Linked DNA regions of Homo sapiens. The protein of the gene in region 3 interacts with the protein of the main gene of each other region in a biochemical or structural test. Each region holds a gene or a part of one and is shown on either strand. Other genes may lie near its edges.

The links.
Region 1: the proteins of GNAO1 (region 3) and RGS20 form a complex in vitro, tested with the Homo sapiens proteins (one study listed by BioGRID).
Region 2: the proteins of GNAO1 (region 3) and RGS5 form a complex in vitro, tested with the Homo sapiens proteins (one study listed by BioGRID).
Region 4: the proteins of GNAO1 (region 3) and ZBTB16 form a complex in vitro, tested with the Homo sapiens proteins (one study listed by BioGRID).

The regions. Positions count from the first base shown.
Region 1 is NC_000008.11:53,887,245-53,891,051, reverse strand, and holds part of RGS20 (regulator of G-protein signaling 20), read right to left. Parts: intron 1-3,807. UniProt on the Homo sapiens protein: Inhibits signal transduction by increasing the GTPase activity of G protein alpha subunits thereby driving them into their inactive GDP-bound form.
Region 2 is NC_000001.11:163,143,866-163,147,672, reverse strand, and holds part of RGS5 (regulator of G-protein signaling 5), read left to right. Parts: intron 1-169; coding exon 170-331; 3' UTR 332-3,807.
Region 3 is NC_000016.10:56,334,489-56,337,988, reverse strand, and holds part of GNAO1 (guanine nucleotide-binding protein G(o) subunit alpha), read right to left. Parts: intron 3,261-3,500; coding exon 3,132-3,260; intron 1,259-3,131; coding exon 1,129-1,258; intron 1-1,128. UniProt on the Homo sapiens protein: Guanine nucleotide-binding proteins (G proteins) function as transducers downstream of G protein-coupled receptors (GPCRs) in numerous signaling cascades.
Region 4 is NC_000011.10:114,237,492-114,241,298, reverse strand, and holds part of ZBTB16 (zinc finger and BTB domain-containing protein 16), read right to left. Parts: intron 1-3,807. UniProt on the Homo sapiens protein: Acts as a transcriptional repressor. Transcriptional repression may be mediated through recruitment of histone deacetylases to target promoters. May play a role in myeloid maturation and in the development and/or maintenance of other differentiated tissues.

The DNA.
Region 1 (3,807 bases), on a different chromosome or scaffold from region 3:
GACATTTATCAAATGTGGCGGCCATATGGGGAAGGTGGAGGCAAAGAACAAACTTAAAACCTCTGAAGGCAAGACTGAGTCTTCCATTCTTTTGAGACCAAGGAGATAGAAGTCCATCAGGCTTTCATTCTGGAATCCAAGAGAAAATTCCCAAGGAACAAGAAAGAACTGGGCATTAGCTAAATCTTATTAAAACTGCAGCCACCAGTCTGGGTAACATAGCGAGACCCCATCTCTACAAAACATTTGTAAAAAATGGTCAGGTGAATTGGCAAGTGCCTGTAATCCCAGCTACTCAGGAGGTTGAAGTGGGAGGACTGCTTGAGCCCAGGAATTCTAGGTTATAATGGTGCCAATGTACTCCATTCTAGGGGTGACAGAGGGAGATTCCATGTCAAAACAAAAAAACCCCCAAAACTGTTACCAGATCTGACCCATTCTAATACCTGCTGGCCTGAAGTGATCAGCCCTTCAGTCCTTCATCCTTAGACAGGAAATCCCTCCAAGGGAGATTCAATCCTTGCTGGTGGAAGAAATTACCAGAACCTACACAGTTTCTTTATATACAATGTCTACATATAATAAAAATTACTAGATATGTGAAGAGAGATAAAAATGTGATGAATAAAAAAATGGATACAGGCACACAGATGATCTCATTGGATTTAGTAGATAAGAATTAGATGGACTAAACTGATGAAAAGATGGGAAATTTCATCAGATAATTTAAATGTATTAAAATGAATCAAATTGGCATACTACATTTAGAAGAAAACAAGTTCTGAAATTAATAACTCACTAGATGATTTGACAGAAGACTCAGGCACAGAGGAAGACAGCTTAATTAACTAAAACACAGGTCAACAGAAAATATTCAAATTGAAGCAGAAAGATATGCGAAATGAACAAAACAGATCAGACAATAAGAGACATGAAGGAAAAAGGCCAACATATCTGTGATTTGGGTCCCAGAAGCAGGAGAGAAAGAAAGAAAACCAGACAAAGCCATATTTGAAGAGATATTGAGTGAAAATTTTCCAAAGTTGATGAAAGACGTCAATCCACAGATAAAAGAAGCTCAGTTAACCCAAAGGAGAATAAATAAAATGAAAACCACATATAGGCACATTATATTCACTGTGGTAAGTCAAAAATGAGAGAAAAACTTTATGAGGATAACAACAGGCTACCTTCAAAGAAGCATAACTTTCCAACAGAAACTAGGAAAGTCAAAAGATAATGGAATGAGAGTGTAAAGGCAGGCCAGACTGGAAGAAGAGATTTGCAGCACGTGCACACACACACACACACACACACACACACACACAGAATTTTGACAGATGGCTTGTATCCAGAATATATAAAGAACTGTGACAGATCAATAATAACAATAATAAAAGATCAGCGGCACAATAGAAAAATGGGCCAAACAGAAGTTCAAGACCAGCCTGGGCAACATGGTGAAACCCCATCTCTACCCCTTCCCAATATCCAAAATAAAAAAATTAGTTGAGTGTGGTGGTGGACACCTATAGTCTCAGCTTCACGGCTAATTGTGCCACTGCCTTCCAGCCTGGGCAACAGAGTGAGACCCTGTCTCAAAAAAAAAAAAAAAAAAAAAAAAAAAAAAAAAAAAAAAGAGAGAGAGAGAGAAAGAAAGAAAGAAAAAGAAAAATGGGCCAAAGGCTTGTAGAGGCATTTTAAATAGAAAATATACAAATGACTTGACCCAAAAACATATAAGAAGATGCTTAACATCATTAGTAGCCAGGGAAATACAAATTAAAACCATAATGAGATACCACTACACAGCCACCAGAATGACTAAAGTTAAATGGGCAAACAATACTAAGTACTGGTGAGGATGTGAAGCAATACACACTTTGCTGGTGGGGATGGATGTAAACTGATTTGGACTATGAAACAGTTTTGCAGTATCTACTAAAGCTAAACATACACTGGACTTATTACCCAACAATTTTTATCCTGGGCATATACCCAAAGGAAATAAGTTCATCAAAAGACATGAATGAGAATGTTCATATTAGCATTATTCATAATAGCTCCACACTGGAAACAACTAAAATTTCTTCAGTAGTGGAATGGAATACACTGTGGTGTATTCACACAAAGGAACGCTGCACAGCATTAAAAAATAACAACACGTACAACAACAAATGAATCTCAAAAACATAATGCTGAGCTAAAGAACCAGATGCAAATATTATACACTGTTTAATTACATATGAAGTTTAAAAGCAGGCACAATTGGTATATGGTGAAAAAAGTTATAAAAGTGGTTACCTGTGGGAGTGAGTCCTGAATGGAAGGAAGCGAGACGGAATCTTTGGGAGAGCACGGGGGGCTGAAAATATCCTATATCTTCATCTAGAGCCGTGGTGAGTGATTTTGGCCCCAGAGGACGCTTGGCAATGTCTAGAGACATTTTTGGTCATGGCATCCAGGGAGGGGCGCTACTGCATCATGCAGTGGGTGGAGATCAGGGATACTGCTAAACATCCTACAGGGCAATGGACAGCCCCCCTCAATAAGGAGTTGTTCAACCCCAAATTTCCACAGTGCTGAGGTGAGAAACCCTGATCTAAATGGTGGTTCTGTGGGGGTACACTTACATAAAGTTTACTAAGCTGTACTCTTAAGATGTGTAAACTTTACTGTAAGTTATAACTCAAGTAAATGAAGTTAAAAGCTGTCATAAACCTCACAAAAATACCAAATAGCTCCTCACTGAAACCTAACAAACACAGAAAAACTTTGTTTCAGTTTTAGAAATACTCTAATTCATTAAACAGTCCTAACAACTGAAATTTGCGGGGATTATAGTAGGTCAGGAAGAATTAAACTCTGTATGTAAAGTCCCCCTTAAATGCAAAGAAATATCTATACCTTTCTTTATGGCAGGAGATATATGAATTATATCTGGGTAGTCACTAGAAATAAGTATTTGTAAAAACACAATGAATGTATAATGGAAGACCCCATACATGTAAGATTCTTCTGGAGTCATCAAAAGATGAATAGAGAAAAATATACATATACCTTTTTTTTTTTTAAGTCAGGGTCTCACTCTGTTGCCCAGGCTGGAGGGCAGAGGCAAGATCATGGCCCACTGCAACCTCAGTGTCCCCAGGCTCAGGTGATTCTCCAGCCTCAGCCTCCCAAGTAGCTGGGACTACAGGTGTGCACCACCACACCCAGCTAATTTTTTGCATTTTTTAAAGAGACGGGGTTTCACTATGTTGCCCAGGCTGGTCTGGAACTCCTGGGCTCAAGTGATCCACCCGTCTTGGCCTCCTAAAGTGTGGGAATTACAGGCGTGAGCCACCACGCCTGGCCACATGTACTTTTTAACAGTAGTCTAATCTGAGTTCTCTGGATAATGACTTCCTGTCATTAATTATCAACATGACTTTTATACAAATTAAGAAATCTATGGGCGTGTGCTCTTGGGCTGCTCTCTGGCCAGCACCCTCTCCTGTGTCACCTCTCTTGTGTCCACAGTCTAACCCATCTCTTCATTTCCCTCAACCTCAGGTGGAGCCTCCACCAAAATGCAGATTTTTCCAAAAATCCTTACAGGGACGATCATCACCCTAGAGGTTGAACCCTTGGATACAACAGAAAAATGTAAAGGCCAATATCCAGGATAAGGAACGAATTCCTCCTGATCAGCAAAGACAAGTGACTGGAAGCTGGCAAGTAACTGGAAGATGGACATAACTTTCTCTGACTACAACATTCAAAAGGAATTTACTCTTTTTATGTTGTGTTGAGACTTCATGGTAG
Region 2 (3,807 bases), on a different chromosome or scaffold from region 3:
ATCAGCTGCCTTATCCCATCGCCTATAAAGTGAGAAGTGACATGTCTCAGTTTTTAATGACTTTCCTCCCCTCTTATGTTTTATTGATGAGAAATTCCACCTCCCTCTTCACCCCTCATCAAATTCTATAACTTAGGCTTATGTAGTGACCCTGTTTCCTGGCCCACAGGTGAATATTGACCACTTCACTAAGGACATCACAATGAAGAACCTGGTGGAACCTTCCCTGAGCAGCTTTGACATGGCCCAGAAAAGAATCCATGCCCTGATGGAAAAGGATTCTCTGCCTCGCTTTGTGCGCTCTGAGTTTTATCAGGAGTTAATCAAGTAGTAATTTAGCCAGGCTATGAAATCATCCTGTGAGTTATTTCCTCCATAATAACCCTGCATTTCCCATTAATCTACATATCTTCCCACAGCAGCTTTGCTCAGTGATACCCACATGGGAAAAATCCCAGGGGATGTTGCTTACTCTTTTTGCCCACACTGCTTTGGATACTTATCTACTGTCCGAAGGCCTTCTTTCCCCACTCAATTCTTCCTGCCCTGTTATTAATTAAGATATCTTCAGCTTGTAGTCAGACACAATCAGAATCACAGAAAAATCCTGCCTAAGGCAAAGAAATATAAGACAAGACTATGATATCAATGAATGTGGGTTAAGTAATAGATTTCCAGCTAAATTGGTCTAAAAAAGAATATTAAGTGTGGACAGACCTATTTCAAAGGAGCTTAATTGATCTCACTTGTTTTAGTTCTGATCCAGGGAGATCACCCCTCTAATTATTTCTGAACTTGGTTAATAAAAGTTTATAAGATTTTTATGAAGCAGCCACTGTATGATATTTTAAGCAAATATGTTATTTAAAATATTGATCCTTCCCTTGGACCACCTTCATGTTAGTTGGGTATTATAAATAAGAGATACAACCATGAATATATTATGTTTATACAAAATCAATCTGAACACAATTCATAAAGATTTCTCTTTTATACCTTCCTCACTGGCCCCCTCCACCTGCCCATAGTCACCAAATTCTGTTTTAAATCAATGACCTAAGATCAACAATGAAGTATTTTATAAATGTATTTATGCTGCTAGACTGTGGGTCAAATGTTTCCATTTTCAAATTATTTAGAATTCTTATGAGTTTAAAATTTGTAAATTTCTAAATCCAATCATGTAAAATGAAACTGTTGCTCCATTGGAGTAGTCTCCCACCTAAATATCAAGATGGCTATATGCTAAAAAGAGAAAATATGGTCAAGTCTAAAATGGCTAATTGTCCTATGATGCTATTATCATAGACTAATGACATTTATCTTCAAAACACCAAATTGTCTTTAGAAAAATTAATGTGATTACAGGTAGAGGCCTTCTAGGTGAGACACTTTTAAGGTACACTGCATTTTGCAAAAAAAAAAAAAAAAAGTAATCTTTTAGCAACCCCAGTATTCCTTCACTATTTCGCTTCCTGCATTAGCAAATTTTACTTACAGTCAAAAGTGCAGATTTATACTCCTGACGTGTCTCATTCACAGCTAAATAATAGGCCATAGGACTTTTGGTAGGTTTAAACTTTTAATTCTGTATTTCATGATTATAAGTCTTGCTAGAATTTTTTCTAATCTTTAGTAGATTTGATTAAATAATGATTCACAGAATTTAGTAACAGAATCAAACTAAGCCATGTATGAGGGTAATCGAGATGAGGATATTAACTCAAAAGAAATAGGGTGATTTTTAAAGGATTAATAAAATTCTGAAATGTTAAGTAGAAGATTACATTGTCTAGTCTTGTATTTCCTCCTTCTGTTGCTCTCTTTCATTCACACACTCTCAGTTTCTCATATTTGTAGCTCATTTATTTGGTTATTTCCTAAGAATATTGAAAGTGAAGCAACTATGTGACTGTATTCTTCAGGTAAACACTGACTGCGCTTGTTGGATTTTCCCTATTTTTGTGACTTCAAGAATAATATGCCCTGCTGAATACATGCCATTTCACATTCTGAAACTGGGTAGAGTGGTTGGGTGTTCTGCCAACAATTGCTAGTGGTGTGAATTCATTCATATTTGCCAGTATTGCTCACTTCAAAGAAACTCCTTCATCAAGCAGTCCAGAGCTAGGCCAGATCAATGCTACAATCATGAAGTTCTCATTGCATGCAATTGTGTAGGATTGACAAGGAACTCAGATAAAAATTTCCAGGGTGCACTTCCAGAACCAGCTTCAACATATGTCTACATTGCCCCCAAGTTAATAAAGTGCCAACCCTTTACTCTCTCATACAGCCAGAAATGTTAGAAATCCAAAATCTTGGTGCATTATTTTTTCATAAACGCTAAAACATTTGAAGAAACAATTTAATTATTTAAAATTCAAGTATTTTATTCACATTATTTGCAATATCCAAATGTTTAAAAATTCCCAGATAATTAACTAGCTATTACAGATCTCACCTAGAGGGTTGATGTTATGAAGACTCCAGTGGACTGTACTCACAAATTGACTGGACACCCTATGAAAGTGGGTAGACCTCTCAGCGGAAAATAAGAAGGGCTTTTACCTACAGGGCAGGACAGGGTCCCATGAGAGCAGTTCTGTGGAGATATAAAAAGAATGGAAGAAGGAATGCCTTATAGTGATATTGTGACATTATATCTATATATCTACATATATCTATCTATCTATATCTACATCTATATAATCTTACATTTAAAATTGTATTCCTACACATATTAGAAACTCTTCTAATAAATGAAGTAAAAAAATTAAAAAGAATACAAATATTCCAGCCCCAAATGAGAAATCAAACATATTAAAATTGTTCAAGAAAATTTCTTTGAACACTTCTGAAAGTTTTTGGAAACTTAGAAAAGAGGGAAAAAAATCCAGTGTTACTAGTAATTTCCATGGTAATACAGATAAAATACATTCTTTTAATTCTGGGAAATTAGAAAAAGTGGGGTGATCTTTCCAGGAAAAACATGTGTAACATCTGCTTATCACTCCAGCTCCCTCCTCCTCCTCCTCTCCACGTTCCCTTGAGTAAATGTCTGGGAAAGCATGAAGCTTGATGCAAGAACCCTGTTGTACTGGCGTTTTCCTCCCCTGTGAAAACGTAACTACTGTTGGGAGTGAATTGAGGATGTAGAAAGGTGGTGGAACCAAATTGTGGTCAATGGAAATAGGAGAATATGGTTCTCACTCTTGAGAAAAAAACCTAAGATTAGCCCAGGTAGTTGCCTGTAACTTCAGTTTTTCTGCCTGGGTTTGATATAGTTTAGGGTTGGGGTTAGATTAAGATCTAAATTACATCAGGACAAAGAGACAGACTATTAACTCCACAGTTAATTAAGGACGTATGTTCCATGTTTATTTGTTAAAGCAGTGTGAATAGCCTTCAAGCATGTGAATAATCTTCCATCTTCCCCGCCACACATACACACACACACTTTTTGTTTCTTTCAGGTAGACACCTTTTAAAATGCAGAACTAACTGAGGCATTTCAGTAACTTTGCTTTCAAATCAATAAAGTCAAATGTATGGAAACATTTTGTGCCCTACTCTCCATACCCCGTGTACTCAAATTCTCTACTGTATGAATTATGCTTTAAGTAGAATTCAGTGCCAAGGAGAACTTGGTGAAATAAATTATTTTAATTTTTTTTTTATCCTTTACAAAGCCATGGATTTTATTTGGTTGATGTGTGCTCTGTACACAAGCCATTTCAATAGGATGGAGCTGTTAATTATTTTCCAAAGAGTAATAGACATGCAAAAGTTTCAATAAAAACTGGG
Region 3 (3,500 bases):
TCCAACCTCAAACCCTCGGTGCCAGCCTTCAGAGGCGTGGGGTGGGGGATTTGCATGTGTTCCAGACAGAAGGAGATGACAGACGCCAGGCTGTGACCCCATAGCCTATGGGCCCCGCTGTCAGGAGTGTTGGGGCTTGTCTCCAGTGACCCTGTGGGCCATGCTCGGTGCCTGGCGGGCTGCAGCCCAGAAGGGGACCACGCAGTGGACCTGCAGGCTCAGGGCAATCACCAGCAACTGTACAACCACCAGCTTGGCGCTGCTGTCCCAGAAACAGCTCCAGAGCGCTGCACACGCATCACCCACCCCACTGCCAACAGCCCCCCACAGGCAGGTACTATTATTATCTCCCTTTTATGGAAAATAGTAACTGAGCCAGAAAGGGTGCTGCCTAAATTCAGCAGCAAGCCAGTGAGTAGCAGAGCCAGGACTAGACCCAGAGGAAGGCTGCACTCTCCCAGGGGAATGTCCCCTCACTGAGGCCCTAGGCTGAATGTGACGCAAGACAGAAGGTAGGAGCCTGGTCTGGCATTTGGCAAAGGAGCCCAGAGCCACGACTGTCACTCACCAGCATGCCTCATCCCCATTGCCCTTCCTGGCCCATCAGCCCCACACACTGCTCCCCAGCACCCCCAACCCCACGCAACTCTCCTGCAGCATCCTGGGCCCTCCCCACCTCTCCCTCAGCATCCCCGGCCCCATGCTGCTTCAGCAGCATCTGACGCCAGTGCCCCAGGGATGGCTGTCAGGCTAAGACTGCTATTTCTGTTGCCTGTACATTCTTGCTTGGCTGCCTCCTGGTTTTTTTAGGGTTTGCTTAAATTTGCTATGGCCTGATGGCCTCTGTGACTCCACCAAGTTTATGGAAGAGGCACATTCTGCACGGCTCTGTGTGATCAGGTTGCATACACAGGCTCTGCCACACTGGCATCATGAGGCATTTGCCTTGGCAATACAGAATTGGTGGAGTGCCGGCACGGCCTGTCCATGATGGAAACCTCTAACCACAACAGCTGGCTGGACCCCAGAGCCATTGTGGGCACCCGAGGCCCAGTGCTCAGAGGGCTGGCCTATCCTGCGGCCGTCTCCTCAGCGCTGCCCCCTGCCCGGGGGGCCCAGGCCACTCACCGTGGTTTCGTCTTCGTGGAGCACCTGGTCATAGCCGCTGAGCGCGACACAGAAAATGATGGCCGTGACGTCCTCGAAGCAATGGATCCACTTCTTGCGTTCAGATCGCTGGCCTCCGACGTCAAACAGCCTGTAGGAGGCAGGGAGCTGGTAGGCGCAGGGTCCAGGCAGGTGAGGGCTGCCTGGGGATTAAGCTGTGAGCACGCTGAGAGGCAGAGGATGGGGGCCATGGTGCTCAGAGCCTTGCTAAAAGCCCTCACTAGAAGACCTTGTCACTCCAGGTGATGACAGACAGCTGGATCACTGCCATCCCCAGGCACTACCCCTGGAGTCTGTCCTGGGACTGGCTGTGCTCACAGATCATGACTCAAAGACCTGCCCTTGCATCTGAGGAGCATTTTACTAAGAGGGCGCACCTGAGCCACCCCCAGGAAGTGCCTCTGAGAGTCCTCCTCGCATGAGGACCCTCCTCTCAGTCTATTCCTTCCTGGGTTTGCTCTGGGCAAACTCCAAACCAGCCTGGGAGGGAGGCAGGCAGGAGATGTCACCTGTTATGTGGATGGCAGAAGTGAGCCACCCATGGGCTTAGGACATGCCCAAGCTGGCGAGAGTCCAGCTGTGGTGGAGCTGGGTCTGGCTGTGGACAAAGCTGGCGCTCTCACCTCTGCCCAGTACGGCCCCTTTCTGGCAGATCAGAGCCTGGCCTCTTCCCCCTCTCAGACTCTACTCCCGAGGGGGCACAAAAATTCTGGAAGAGACTGTGGGCAGGTGGGACTTACGTCCTGGAAGTAAAAGGTCAGTCTCCCACCCCAATCCCCAGAGCGAGGAGTCCTGTAGCCTCCTAGATCTGGGATGCCTGCTGACACACAGCCTGCCAGAGGGGGACAGGGAAGGATCTCTGGTCCCACCGGACACAACGGAGTGACTGCAGGCAGAGATTAGTGTGGGCTCAGAGCAAGGAATGGGTCTGGTTCTCATTCCATCAATCAGGGGATCCTCCCCTGGATCCCACCTCCCCATCTGAAATGCAGGGGCGTTGGCAGATGGCCTCTGTGGCCCCTCCAGAATGCTTATTCTCAGACCCCGCCTTGCTGGGCTGGGTTGAGCTGAGATCCCCATCCTGTGCTCCCAGTGGGGGAGCAGGAGAGACCAAGGAGCCTGGGAAGGCAAGAGAGGCCCCTCAGGGCTGCTCTGCCCAAGGTTTTGCTCCCCAGATCTGCGGAGGCCTAGGGGTTCCTGGGCCCAGAGCCTCGGCCCCTCAGTCTGAACAGGAGCGGGCAGGAGTTGGGGACATGGGAGGCAGGGAATATTAGAATCCAGCTCTCCCAGCAGGGGTCCCTGCCCTCCCCTTCTCTGCTGGCCTCTCTTCCCCACAGGACGGAGCAGGCCTCAGTGCACGCATGTTACTGCAGGTGGGGACACAGCGCTGCAGCAGGACCCTGGGAACCAGCTCACCCGTCAGGCCCCTGCTCTGAGGCCCCAGAGCCCCTGGGTTCTAGCTGTGCTCTGTGCCTGGGAAAAGCCCTGCTCTTGTCAGGCCTCAGCTTCCCAAGCGTACTAGGAGAGGGTGGGTCAGCTCTCTCTGCTCCTTCCAGCTCTGGGATTACTTGGGTCCTCAGGGTCTCACAGAGGTAGCTTGGGCTTACCCAGCCCCACTCTTGGCTCCTCCCCCCAAGGTGACCTTGGAAGGGCCCCCTGGTAGCCCACCTCCTCCTCCTCCTTGGAAGTCACCTCAGGGACAGGCTGCCCCTCCTTGTCCAAATCCTCCCTGTTCCTCACAGCCCCACTCTGGGAATCTTCTTCCAGAAAGCCTCCCTGCTCACTCCAGCCCCTAACCTTGGCAGAAACACAGACAGGTTCCTTCTAGTATCTAGCTGCCTGCCCCAGCCCGCAGGTTCCCTGGGGCAGGATGATGTTTGGGCGCTGTAAACGCAATGCGCTGAGAGGCTGGGCATGTCCCATCTTAGCCCTCGCCAGGGCCTGGGGGCCTCTCTGGGCCTCACCTGAAGTGGAGGTTCTTGAATGTGAAGTGGGTTTCTACGATGCCAGTGGTTTTGACCCTGGTTCGGAGGATGTCCTGCTCGGTGGGCTGGTAGTCGGCGGCCCCAATCCGATCCAGGCTGTCCAGGTAGCTGAGGATGGCAACAAACAGGGGACTATGGACCAAATGCCTGGACACTGTTCGGGACTGGCCAGGCCACCCATCTTCAGAGTCCAGTCTCGGTCAGGGCCCCTCCAGGTCACTGTGGAAAAGACATCACCTCCATTCCAGGCCATAGGGAGTGGGGGCGACTGAGGAAGTGGGTCTTAGGGGTCTTGGCCTCACGCACTCATTCACAGCCAAAAGGGCTACGCATGCAGCTCCCGGGACA
Region 4 (3,807 bases), on a different chromosome or scaffold from region 3:
CACACACCCTAGATTTTAATGCTTTCCCAAGACTAGCTACAGATCCTGTTTTGTTTTTTTTTTTTAACTACTTCTCCACTCACTAAAGCATGAATCTTAGGTCCATTCACTCAACAAGTATTATTTGATGCCTTCTACAAGCAAGGCTGTCTTTTTGGCACTGGGGATATAACCAAGGAAGAGCATGCAAAGTCCCTGCTCTCATGACCGACGTTACCCAGAACACCAGGTGAATGGCGGAATCCGGAAGATGGAATAGTGTCTGTGAACACTCTGGGCCAGGAGGAAACATGGCCGGTGGGAGGATCAGACAGAGGAATGGTGCAGTGCAGCTGGGGAAGAAGAGGAGGCTAAAGGGAAAGGCAAGGGCCAGGCCATGCAGGGTCTTGCAAACCACGTCAAGAGATTTAGTTCCATCCTAAACCCGATGGGCAACTGTCAAAGGATTGAAAGCTAGCGAGTGATGTGAGATTTTCATTTAATTCTAACTGGCTGTTCATCCCCAAAGTACCCCACACATACAGGCTGCCATTTTCTGTTTGTTACCAATCCCTTTCTGACACTGCTCTGGAGCCATGGCCGAAATTTCCAGCTGCAGCACCACAGGAGGAAGTATCTGACCTTGTGTCTGAGTCCTAACTGGCAGCTCAGTGCCCACCCTTTTGGGCTCTGTTTTCCTGAGCACAGGAGCTCCCCGGCAGGCCCATCTGTGTGTCTCTGTGCTGGTGCCTGGGCAATATCACCTGCACTTGGCCCCACACCGCTGTCCCCTGTGTGGGAAGGCACAAGCAGGAAACGTAAGTAGGCCTAGCATCTGTCAGTCCAGTCCAGAGTGGGTGGGGGGAGGGGGTAAAGCTTTGGCTGCTGGAAGCCATGGGCTGCTCAGCATGGAATCGGGAAGTGTCTGGTGGAAGGTAGGGGGAAGAGAAGGGATGGCACGAAGAACCTCCCTGCCTTCCTGGCCATCAATGGAGATAGCAAGTGAGAGGTCTGGTCCTCACCACCTCCGTCCCACTCATGGCTGGGTTAGGATGGACTAGTAGGCAGGCAAGGCCCACCTCTCACTGTCCCCCACACTTCTGTGCCCCTCACACCCACCCTGATATCCCTTCCCTTTGCAGACACTGAAGTCTAAGCACCTGGAGCCACGCCCCATCTCACCAGCAGTCAGGAAGGCTGAGCAGGGAAGGAGAAAAACAGCCAGCACAGGATTTTGCTCCTGGCCAACAAAAAGCAGGAAGGAAGGGGAGCGAATCTAGGCGTTATGCTAGGTACCTTATCTATGTTGTCAGTTCATTTAAAACTTGCAATCCTACAAGGCAGGCATTCTTATCCCCCTTTTTACCAGTGTAAAAGAGAGATTAAATAACTTGCCTAAGATCACACAGAAAGAGGCAGAGTTGGGATCTGAAAATATCTCGGTTTGTCTTTCAGAAACCACGGGGCTGGACTCAATGCTACCTCTGGAGCTGACTGCCCGCCTGTCTGGGCTTACCCTGGAAGAGGCCCAGTAAGGATGGTACAGAGGACTCCTGCCTCTAGTACAGCTCCAGCAATGGCTAGAGAACCCCTGGCCAGGAGTGGGCAGTAGCTGGGGCTGGGTCACAAGGCATAGCTCTCTGAGGCCTTCCAATCCCACTGGGAGCCACCAAGGTCTCTCAGAAATGCTGAGTAGTCTACTCAGCTTCACTTGCTGGAGGGAGACATAATGAGAGATGTATCTTTCTGGACAGAAGCAATGCCAAGAGTTGACAGTGAGTCTTCAATGTCCCTCCCTGCTTGGCCGACGTACACAGGAGGACAGTGCATCTGCAATGCGTTCTGTGCCCGGTGGCCCCCACTCCTTCAACTTGAGAGCCCCCAGCATCTACTCCCTCTCTGCCCTTAACCCCCACCCCACAGAGAGCCCAAATTAAGCCAGGTGTTCAAACAGCTACCTTAAATCAGTAGGGTTGAGTAGGCTTTGGAGGCCAGCCATGCCCTTTAAGAGCCAAGGCTTCTCCTTATGCATCCTCTGAGATCCCCGGCATGGAAGGAACCTGGGCAGAGGGAACATGAATGGCATTCCCAATAGGACATCTCAGCCTATACAGCCAGACCCACAGGTGCTCTGAGTGTCAATACACCCAGCAAGGCAGACTGCAGCACTCTGCCCCCTTGGCCTTTCCAAGGCCCCTCGATACTGCCCCACTATGCTGTCCCTACTTCTCAGGGTGGCCTGAACCCACTTCATGTCCATTCAGCCAACTCACTGAGCCACTACCAAGTACAGGCACTGTGCTAGGTGACCAGGGGCAGGCTAAGGCTGAGCAGAGAAACTGGGTCCCAGACTAGTGGGAGATGCTGAGTTAACAACCACCCAGAGGGTAAGGCAGGGCGACTCCAAGAGCTCCTGAGATTTTGAGTTAGGCTTTTAAAAGTTGAGTATCTGAGAAGCAAAGGACAAGAAGTTGGGACACATGTGCCAGGCTAAGGAGAGAGACACCACTGGCAAATGTCAGAGCAGATGGGGCCAAGGTCAGGCCCTGGGGATGGAGACAAGCTGGGAGGGTGATGGGAGTCAGATCAGAGGGCTGCATATGCCAGGCAGGACAGGTTGGACTTTATTCTACAGGCAATGCAGTGCCATGAAAGGACCGAGGGTTGCTATGATCCTAATGTCTGGGTCCCCCTCTGATTCCTTTTTTGAAATCCTAACCCCTAAGGTGATGGTATTAGGAAGTGGGGCCTGGGAGAGATAATTAGGTAATTAAAATGGAATGAGTGTCCTTGTAAAAGAGGGCCCAGAGAGCTAGCTAGCCCCTTCCACCACGTGAGGACACCGAGAAATCAGCAGTCTGCAACCAGGAGGAGGACCCTCACCAGAACCTGAACATGCTGGCACCCCAATCACAGACTTCCCAGCCTCCAGAGCTGTGAGAAATGCATGTCTGCTGTGTATAAGCCACCCAGTCCGTGGCAGTTTGTTATAGCAGCCTGACTTGACTAAGACGAGTGGTGCTAGCACGATCTGACCTGTGTTTGAAGCCAGTGACTCTGGGCACACATGGGGACCAACAGCAGCAGCAAGCGGTTAGAAGCAGCGAGAGGGCTGATGGGCCACTGGAGGAGGGTAGGGACCAGACCAGGGCAGAGGCTGCCAGGGCAAAGGGAGAGAGAAAATCCTAGAAAGGTGGGACAGCAAGGGAGGAGTGGCACGCAAAAAATCCCAGATGGCCAGTTCCACAACTGGCCAACAGGCTGGAAGTCATATGGTCACCAGCTGGAAAGGAAACACTATGATGTCCCTACAGTGGTCTCTCTCCCCTTCCTGGGACATTCCACAAGGTGCAGGGGTGCTCCTTGGTCACGTATCCACCAACCAAGGCTCCCAGGGGAAGAAAGGGGAGCCTCTGAGACTCAGCATCCACTTTCCCCATTTTTCTGCTTAGAAACTAACAGCTATGATGATAGAAAAGTATTTTTAAAAAAATGGAAAAGTGGGGGAGATGTGGATGAGACACAAGAAAAGCTATTGGTGCATGCGAGTTAAAAATCTAGAGACTAGATGTGAGTTATTAAACAATTTGCTGGCGTTTCAGCCTAGCTGATTGTTCGCATGTATGATGAGTCAGGGCAGATTCTATTACACTGGGAGATTAAGCAAATAAATGCTAGCTTTTGGAAACACATTAAAATGTGGGACTATGGAAATAAAATTATCTAGAAAATTGTATTAGCAATTCATTAGCTGCAGTGAGATGTGCGGCGGGGCAGGGGGGCCCGGCAGCACTGGAACGCTCTGCTCCCTTCAACGCCTGGGTTCCG